2 linked regions of the Homo sapiens genome follow. The protein of the gene in region 1 purifies or fractionates together with the protein of each later gene. This does not show direct contact. Each region holds a gene or a part of one and is shown on either strand. Other genes may lie near its edges. The genes, in order: DYNC1I1 and C15orf39.

What was found.
Region 2: the proteins of DYNC1I1 (region 1) and C15orf39 purify together in Homo sapiens (affinity purification with mass spectrometry; one large-scale study listed by BioGRID and IntAct). This does not show direct contact.

The regions. Positions count from the first base shown.
Region 1 is NC_000007.14:96,037,954-96,041,771, forward strand, and holds part of DYNC1I1 (cytoplasmic dynein 1 intermediate chain 1), read left to right. Parts: intron 1-1,323; coding exon 1,324-1,468; intron 1,469-3,818. UniProt on the Homo sapiens protein: Acts as one of several non-catalytic accessory components of the cytoplasmic dynein 1 complex that are thought to be involved in linking dynein to cargos and to adapter proteins that regulate dynein function.
Region 2 is NC_000015.10:75,204,599-75,208,416, forward strand, and holds part of C15orf39 (uncharacterized protein C15orf39), read left to right. Parts: intron 1-1,400; 5' UTR 1,401-1,450; coding exon 1,451-3,818.

The sequences.
Region 1 (3,818 bases):
AAATCCACTTCCATAAATTAAACAAGGTCCTCATTTTGCACCCTATAAATCCTTTCAGGATGCTGTTAAGAGCAAGTGGAGTCTCACCAGGGGCCACTTCAAAGATCAGTTCCTCGGGTTCATTAGAACAAATTTAAATGATCATGTGTGGAACTGCTCTTAGCAGTTTCACTGGGCATAATTTTTGAGTGCCTGTTACATGGAACACGCACTGCCACACTTTGCTCATGATTCCAAATTTTGCTAAGCACATTGACATTTATTGGTGCTCCAGAGGCCCAAATGTTTTAATAACTGAGCTCGTTTTTATTCTTAGTGACATAATATTAGGATTCTACAATTCCTACATATTTGTCATATTTATAACCTCATGCACATGAATATTTTAAATATAGCATTTTTGGTATGTTTTCTCACATCTTCCTAATTGTATATGATTGCATGCAGAATACTATGTGATAATAGAGGGCTGCAAATAATAACAGCTTAGTTAAATAAGCAAGATATGTCTGTGTGTAATTTTTTAAATGTCTATCATTATTTCTCAAATGTGCTTCTGTTTTAAAAAAGGACTGAGACATAAGTTTGTCTCTTTTTCTTAGCTAGTTTATTCAACAAATATTTATTGAGCACTTACTATATGCCAGACACTTGGCAACAAGAAAGACAAGATACTTGCCCGTATGGGATTTACAGTGGATATGTAAATCTGTCTTCTGTTTTCAGTAAAGAGAAAACATTATTTTCTCCATATTATATTTAAATTATGTGCATTATTTTGTGGTGACAAGGGTTTCCACAAAGTGTTACATTTTCAGCTATGTTAAAGTAATTTAAGAAATTTACTTGAAAAAAATAAATGATTGTTCCTTCAAGGATGGATGGAGTTTTATAGTCAATAGGTTCCCCAAAAGGAGATAAAGCAGACCATGTGCAAAATGCTATCTCAAGAATAAAATAGTCTTATAAATATAAAAGCTTCAGAGACCTAAGTGTATTTGTTTCCATTAAAATAGCTGCATCAGCAATGATAGGCTTTGAGGAATTCTGCAAAAAGAATTAAATAATAAATATTGATATTAAATTCTGTATTTTAAAAAGATTTCATTGCCCTACATTGTTTTTAAATAATGAAAAATAGGGTAACATATTTGCAAACAATTTCTTTCAGGATAACTGTAAAAATGATTTCATTTTGGTGGTGTGTGGTTGTTCTAAATTATGGAGATGCAGAGTTGAGGGTTTTTTGTTTTGTTTTGTTTTTAAGCAATCATTGCTTTTCAGAGGTCACTGGAATTCTGCTCATGTGTGCTCTTCCTACAGCAAAGCAGGTATTGGTGAGGTCTTTGAAGGTCACCAAGGGCCAGTGACAGGAATTAACTGCCACATGGCAGTGGGCCCAATCGACTTTTCTCACCTGTTTGTCACATCATCATTTGACTGGACTGTCAAACTGTGGACCACCAAGGTAAGAATATCTTGACTGAAATTCTCAGATAATACATAAGGGCAGAGGATGGTTTTTCATTCCCTGGAAACAGTTGTCCCTAAAGCCTCTTCCAGGCAACCTGGCATTGGGAATTCATATACCTTCTGGTGAGCTCAGTCTACCTCAGAGCTAGTTAAGTCCATTTTATTTACTTTTACACATATAGGTAATACTTGAAAATATTCTAACTATAAAAAATTCAAACAATTCAAATAATGATAAAGCTGCAGTCCTCCTCTACCTACCCCAACCCCAACCCCATCCACAACACCCCCTTCACTGCCTGCACCTCAGTCCCCTCCCCAGGGGTAAACTTTTATCAGTTTCATGTCTATGTTCTGGAGCTTGGTGGTATCTACTTACTTACATATGTACCTATGGAAATATATGATTTGGGACTTGGGTTTTTTTTTGTTTGGTTCGTTGATTGGTTGTTTATTTTTATTTTGAGCTATTGGAAGTTTTTAAGCTGGTAAATGGCCCTATGTTATGTTTTTAAAGGTAATTCTGGCTGGGAGCTGTGGCTCACATCTGTAATCCCAGCACTTTGGGAGGCCGAGGTGGGTGGATCGCTTGAGGTCAGGAGTTTGAGACCAGCCTGGCCAACATGGTGAAGCCCCATTTCTACTAAAAATAGAAAAATTAGCTACATATGGTGGTACATGCCTGTAGTCCCAGCTACTCTCGAGGCTGAGGCAGGAGAATCACTTGAACCTGTCAGGCAGAGGTTGCAGTGAGCCGAGATTGGGCCACTGCATTCCAGCCTGGGTGACAGAGCCAGACTCCATCTCAAAATTAAAATAAAATAAAATAAAATAAAATAGTAAAATAAAATATAATTCTCTCCATGCTTGAGAGCAAGAAGAAAAGCTGAGACCACTTGGAAGGAAGGCACAATAATCTAGGAAAGAAATGACAGTGACTTAAACCAGTAGTCTGAGATGGAGAGAAATAAATGCATTTGAGAACCATTTAAGAGATAAAAGCCACAGAAACTGGTGATTGATTTGATAGAAGGAAGGTAGGAGAGGGAGTCATCAGCAGATAACCCAGGTTTAAGACCTGGGCAGCTGGTGAGTGTAGCACTCACTGCACTGGAGAACAGCAGGGGAAGGACATGCTGGGGCAGAGCTTTGCATATGTTGAGCTAAAGGTGCCCGGGAGAGGCATTTCAAGATCTCCATTAAGCAGTTTGATATGTGAGTCAGAAGAAGAGAGAGCCCTCCAAACAGAACGTATGCACTAGAATAGCAGTGATCTTCACAAATGAGTAGTTTTTTTTTTTTTTCTTTTTTTTGAAACATAGTCTCGCTCTGTCACCCAGGCTGGAGTGCAATGGCACTATCTTGGCTCACGGCAGCCTCTGCCTCCCAGGTGCAAGTGATTCTCCTGCCTCAACCTCCCTAGCAGCTGGGATTCCACAGCACACACCACCATGCCCACCTAATTTTTGTATTTTTAGTAGAGATGGGGTTTCGCATGTTGGCCAGGCTGGTCTTGAACTCCCAACCTCAAATGATCTGCCCGCCTTGTCCTGCCAAAGTGCTGGGATTACAGGCATGAGCCACCACACCTGGCCCAGCAGTGGATTTTAAAAGAAACACTAACATGCAATCTGGAGGGAGAGCAATACTTAGGAAATAAATAGAAATTGAACTAGAAAAGGGAGATGAAAAAGTAACCCAGGAAATAGAAGACAAATTAGAATTTTCTTTGCAGCTTCATGGGTATTAATGGAAAAAACCATGTTAAGAGGACAGAATTTGCTTTTAACTATATGAAAAGATAACAACCTCATTTATAAGAGAAATTAAAATTAAAACCAAGTTGAGAAACATATTTCCAACTATCAGATTGACAAAAATCTAAGTTTTGCAACATACTCTGTGATGAGGCCGAAAGAAACCAGCTGTTCTCATACATTTCCATTGGAAATGCAAAATGGCTCAACACTGTGGAAGAGGATTTAGCAATATCTAAAAATAATACATGTTTTAACAGAACAATTTCCACTTCTAGGAATCTATGCCAAAGATATACCAGCAAAAATAAGACAGAAGACATATGGAGAAGGACATTCACTGAAAGATTATTTGAATAGCAAAAGAATGAATACAACTCAAAAATCTCTATCAGTACAGTGCTGTGTGAATCAAAAGTATGGTACCTCCACCCAAGAGAGTAACATTATTCAGGTATAAGAAAAAATGAAGAAGACTTCTATGTTCTATTATGGAGTGATCCCTAAGATACATTTTTAAATGAGTAAAGCAAAGTGGAGAGAAGTGCAAATAGTATATTATCATTGTTTATAATTATATAATTAGAA
Region 2 (3,818 bases), on another chromosome or scaffold:
CTGAGTTCACGCAATTCTCCTGCCTCAGCCTTCAGCGTAGCTGGGATTACAGGCATGCACAACCATGCCTGGCTAATTTTTTTGTATTTTTAGTAGAGACAGCGTTTCACCATGTTGGTCAGGTTGGTCTTGAACTCCTGACCTCAAATGATCCGCACACCTCGGCTTCCCAAAGTGCTGGGATTACAGGTGTGAGCCACAGCACCTAGCCACCTCCCTGGACTTTCACACACGCCCCTGACGCTGTCTTGGCCCCACCCTGCCATGTGCCTAGGAATCGCCATCTGCAGCTTGGGGGCTGGGGGTGGATCCAGGCTCCTCATGCTCTGGGACCTTCCTGCTGGTGCTGCAGCACCATCTGCTGGGCTGCCCTGACTCCTGCGGAGGGGGAGGAGTGGGGCGAGAGGGGTGTGGCTTGTACAGACTGATGTCCCCAGTTACCTCTCCTAGGGGACTGCTCTCCAGAGCCAAGTCCAGTATCTCAGCATTGGCTTTGGGCCTAGGGACCTGGGCTGGAGGCCCGACTCTGCCATTTTTGACAAGATCAGCAGGTCAGAGGAGTGTCACAAGAAATCTGTGAATTTGTAGACAATACTCAGATTCCATGTTTTGGCTGCAGTGGGCATCACTGTGGCATCTTGGAATAGGACCCTGTGGTGGGAGGCAGGAGGCCTGCTTCTCGTTGTGTCTATTTCATTGGTGACTTTGGGATGAATGGGTCTCCTCATCTGTATATGAGGGGGTGGCGGCAGGGTATGTCAAGTGACCCTGAGACCCAGTGCCCCTACAAATTCTGAAATCCCAAGAAGGAGGGGATCTTGGGAGTTGTATGGAGGAAAATCGAACAGAAGGGGCTCCTGGAGTGGGGATGGGTGGGGGTTCTGTGTAGAATAATTCATTAAACAAAGGGTTCTGCAGCTTAAAATATACGAGTTGGGGTCAGGAGCAGTAGGTGGTTCATGCCTGTGATTTCAGCATTTTGGGAGGCCAAGATGGGAGGATCACATGAGTCCAGGAGTTCAAGACCAGCCTGGGTAACATAGTAAGACCCTGTTTCTACATAAAATACTAAAATGAGCCGGGTGTGGTAGCAGGCACCTGTGGTCCCAGCAACCTGGGAGTTGGGAGAATCACTTGAGCCCAGGAGGTTGAGACTGCGGTGAGCCAAGTTCATGTCATTGCACTCCAGCCCGGGCAACAGAGTGAGACCCTGCCTCAAAAAATACATACACGAGTTGGAAACCTCTGTCACGTGGCTCATGCACTCACAGTCTTAACTGAGCATCATTTAAGCGCCAGGTTCTTAGGTGTAGCCGTGAGCTGATGAGAGCAGCAGCCCTCTGTTGCTTTGCCTGTAGCCTGTTTTCCTGACAGCCCCTGCCTTTCTCTCTCTATCCCAGGTCAGAAGTTGAGTAGCAGGGGCCTAGGAGGGCTCGAAGCCTTCACAGCGATGGCAGAGAAGCGACCCCTGAGAACCCTGGGGCCTGTGATGTATGGCAAGCTGCCCCGCTTAGAGACAGACTCCGGGCTCGAGCACAGCCTGCCCCACTCTGTTGGTAACCAGGATCCCTGCACCTACAAGGGGTCCTACTTCTCCTGCCCCATGGCAGGTACTCCTAAGGCCGAGTCTGAGCAGTTGGCGTCCTGGACCCCATACCCACCCTTGTACTCTACCGGTATGGCAGGACCCCCACTTCAGGCAGACAACCTGCTGACCAACTGCCTGTTCTACCGCTCGCCAGCAGAAGGCCCTGAGAAGATGCAGGACTCCAGCCCTGTTGAGCTCCTGCCCTTCAGTCCCCAGGCTCACTCCTACCCAGGCCCACCACTGGCAGCACCCAAACCTGTCTACCGCAACCCTCTGTGCTATGGGCTCTCAACTTGTCTGGGGGAAGGAGCAGTGAAGAGGCCACTGGATGTTGACTGGACTCTGGCGACTGGGCCCCTGTTGCCCTCAGCTGACCCACCCTGCTCTCTGGCCCCAGCTCCTAGCAAGGGCCAGACTCTGGATGGCACCTTCTTGCGGGGGGTGCCAGCTGAGGGGTCCAGTAAAGACTCCTCAGGGAGCTTCTCCCCATGCCAGCCCTTCCTGGAGAAATATCAGACCATCCACAGCACGGGCTTCCTGGCCTCCAGGTACACAGGTCCTTACCCTAGGAACTCCAAGCAAGCAATGTCTGAGGGGCCCTCAAGTCCTTGGACCCAGCTGGCCCAGCCCCTGGGGCCACCCTGTCAGGACACCGGGCCCACCCACTACCCACCACCCCACCACCCACCACCCCACCCTCCACAGGCCCTGCCTTGCCCTCCAGCCTGTCGCCACCCAGAGAAGCAGGGCAGCTACAGCCCAGCACTCCCACTGCAGCCTCTGGGGGGCCACAAGGGGACCGGGTACCAGGCTGGTGGGCTGGGCAGCCCCTACCTGAGGCAGCAGGCAGCCCAGGCACCTTACATTCCCCCACTGGGGCTGGACGCTTACCCCTACCCCTCTGCCCCTCTCCCAGCACCCTCTCCAGGCCTCAAGCTGGAGCCGCCTCTCACTCCACGGTGCCCATTGGACTTTGCCCCCCAGACACTGAGTTTTCCTTATGCCCGGGATGACCTCTCTCTCTATGGAGCATCCCCTGGGCTTGGAGGGACACCACCTTCCCAGAACAATGTGCGGGCTGTGCCACAGCCTGGTGCCTTCCAGAGGGCATGCCAGCCTTTGCCAGCGAGCCAGCCCTGCTCAGAGCCTGTGAGGCCTGCACAGGAAGCCGAAGAGAAGACCTGGCTGCCCAGCTGCAGGAAAGAGAAGCTCCAGCCCCGGCTCAGTGAGCACTCTGGGCCGCCCATCGTCATCCGAGACAGTCCAGTTCCCTGTACCCCCCCAGCACTGCCCCCCTGTGCCCGGGAGTGCCAGTCTCTTCCACAGAAGGAGGGCGCAAGGCCACCCAGCTCTCCACCAATGCCTGTCATTGACAATGTCTTCAGCCTGGCCCCCTACCGTGACTATCTGGATGTGCCGGCACCCGAGGCCACAACTGAGCCTGACTCTGCCACAGCTGAGCCTGACTCAGCCCCAGCCACCAGTGAAGGTCAGGACAAAGGCTGCAGGGGGACCCTGCCTGCCCAGGAGGGCCCCTCAGGGAGTAAACCCCTAAGGGGCTCACTTAAGGAGGAGGTAGCCCTGGATTTGAGTGTGAGGAAGCCCACAGCAGAGGCCTCCCCTGTCAAGGCTTCCCGTTCTGTGGAGCATGCCAAGCCTACTGCAGCCATGGATGTGCCAGATGTGGGCAACATGGTGTCAGATCTGCCAGGCCTGAAAAAGATAGACACAGAAGCACCAGGCTTGCCTGGGGTGCCAGTGACCACAGATGCCATGCCAAGGACCAACTTCCACAGCTCTGTGGCCTTCATGTTCCGAAAGTTCAAGATCCTCCGTCCGGCACCTTTGCCTGCAGCCGTGGTCCCGTCCACGCCCACCTCAGCTCCTGCTCCCACACAGCCTGCACCCACCCCCACATCTGGGCCCATTGGACTGCGGATTCTCGCTCAACAGCCCTTGTCTGTGACCTGCTTCAGCCTGGCACTGCCCAGCCCTCCAGCCGTAGCTGTGGCCTCCCCTGCCCCTGCTCCAGCTCCATCCCCTGCTCCGGCTCGAGCTCAGGCTCCAGCTTCAGCCCGGGATCCAGCTCCAGCTCCAGCTCCAGTTGCAGGCCCTGCTCCAGCATCTACTTCAGCCCCAGGGGACTCCCTGGAGCAGCATTTTACAGGACTACATGCGTCCCTGTGTGATGCTATTTCTGGCTCCGTCGCCCACTCTCCTCCAGAGAAGC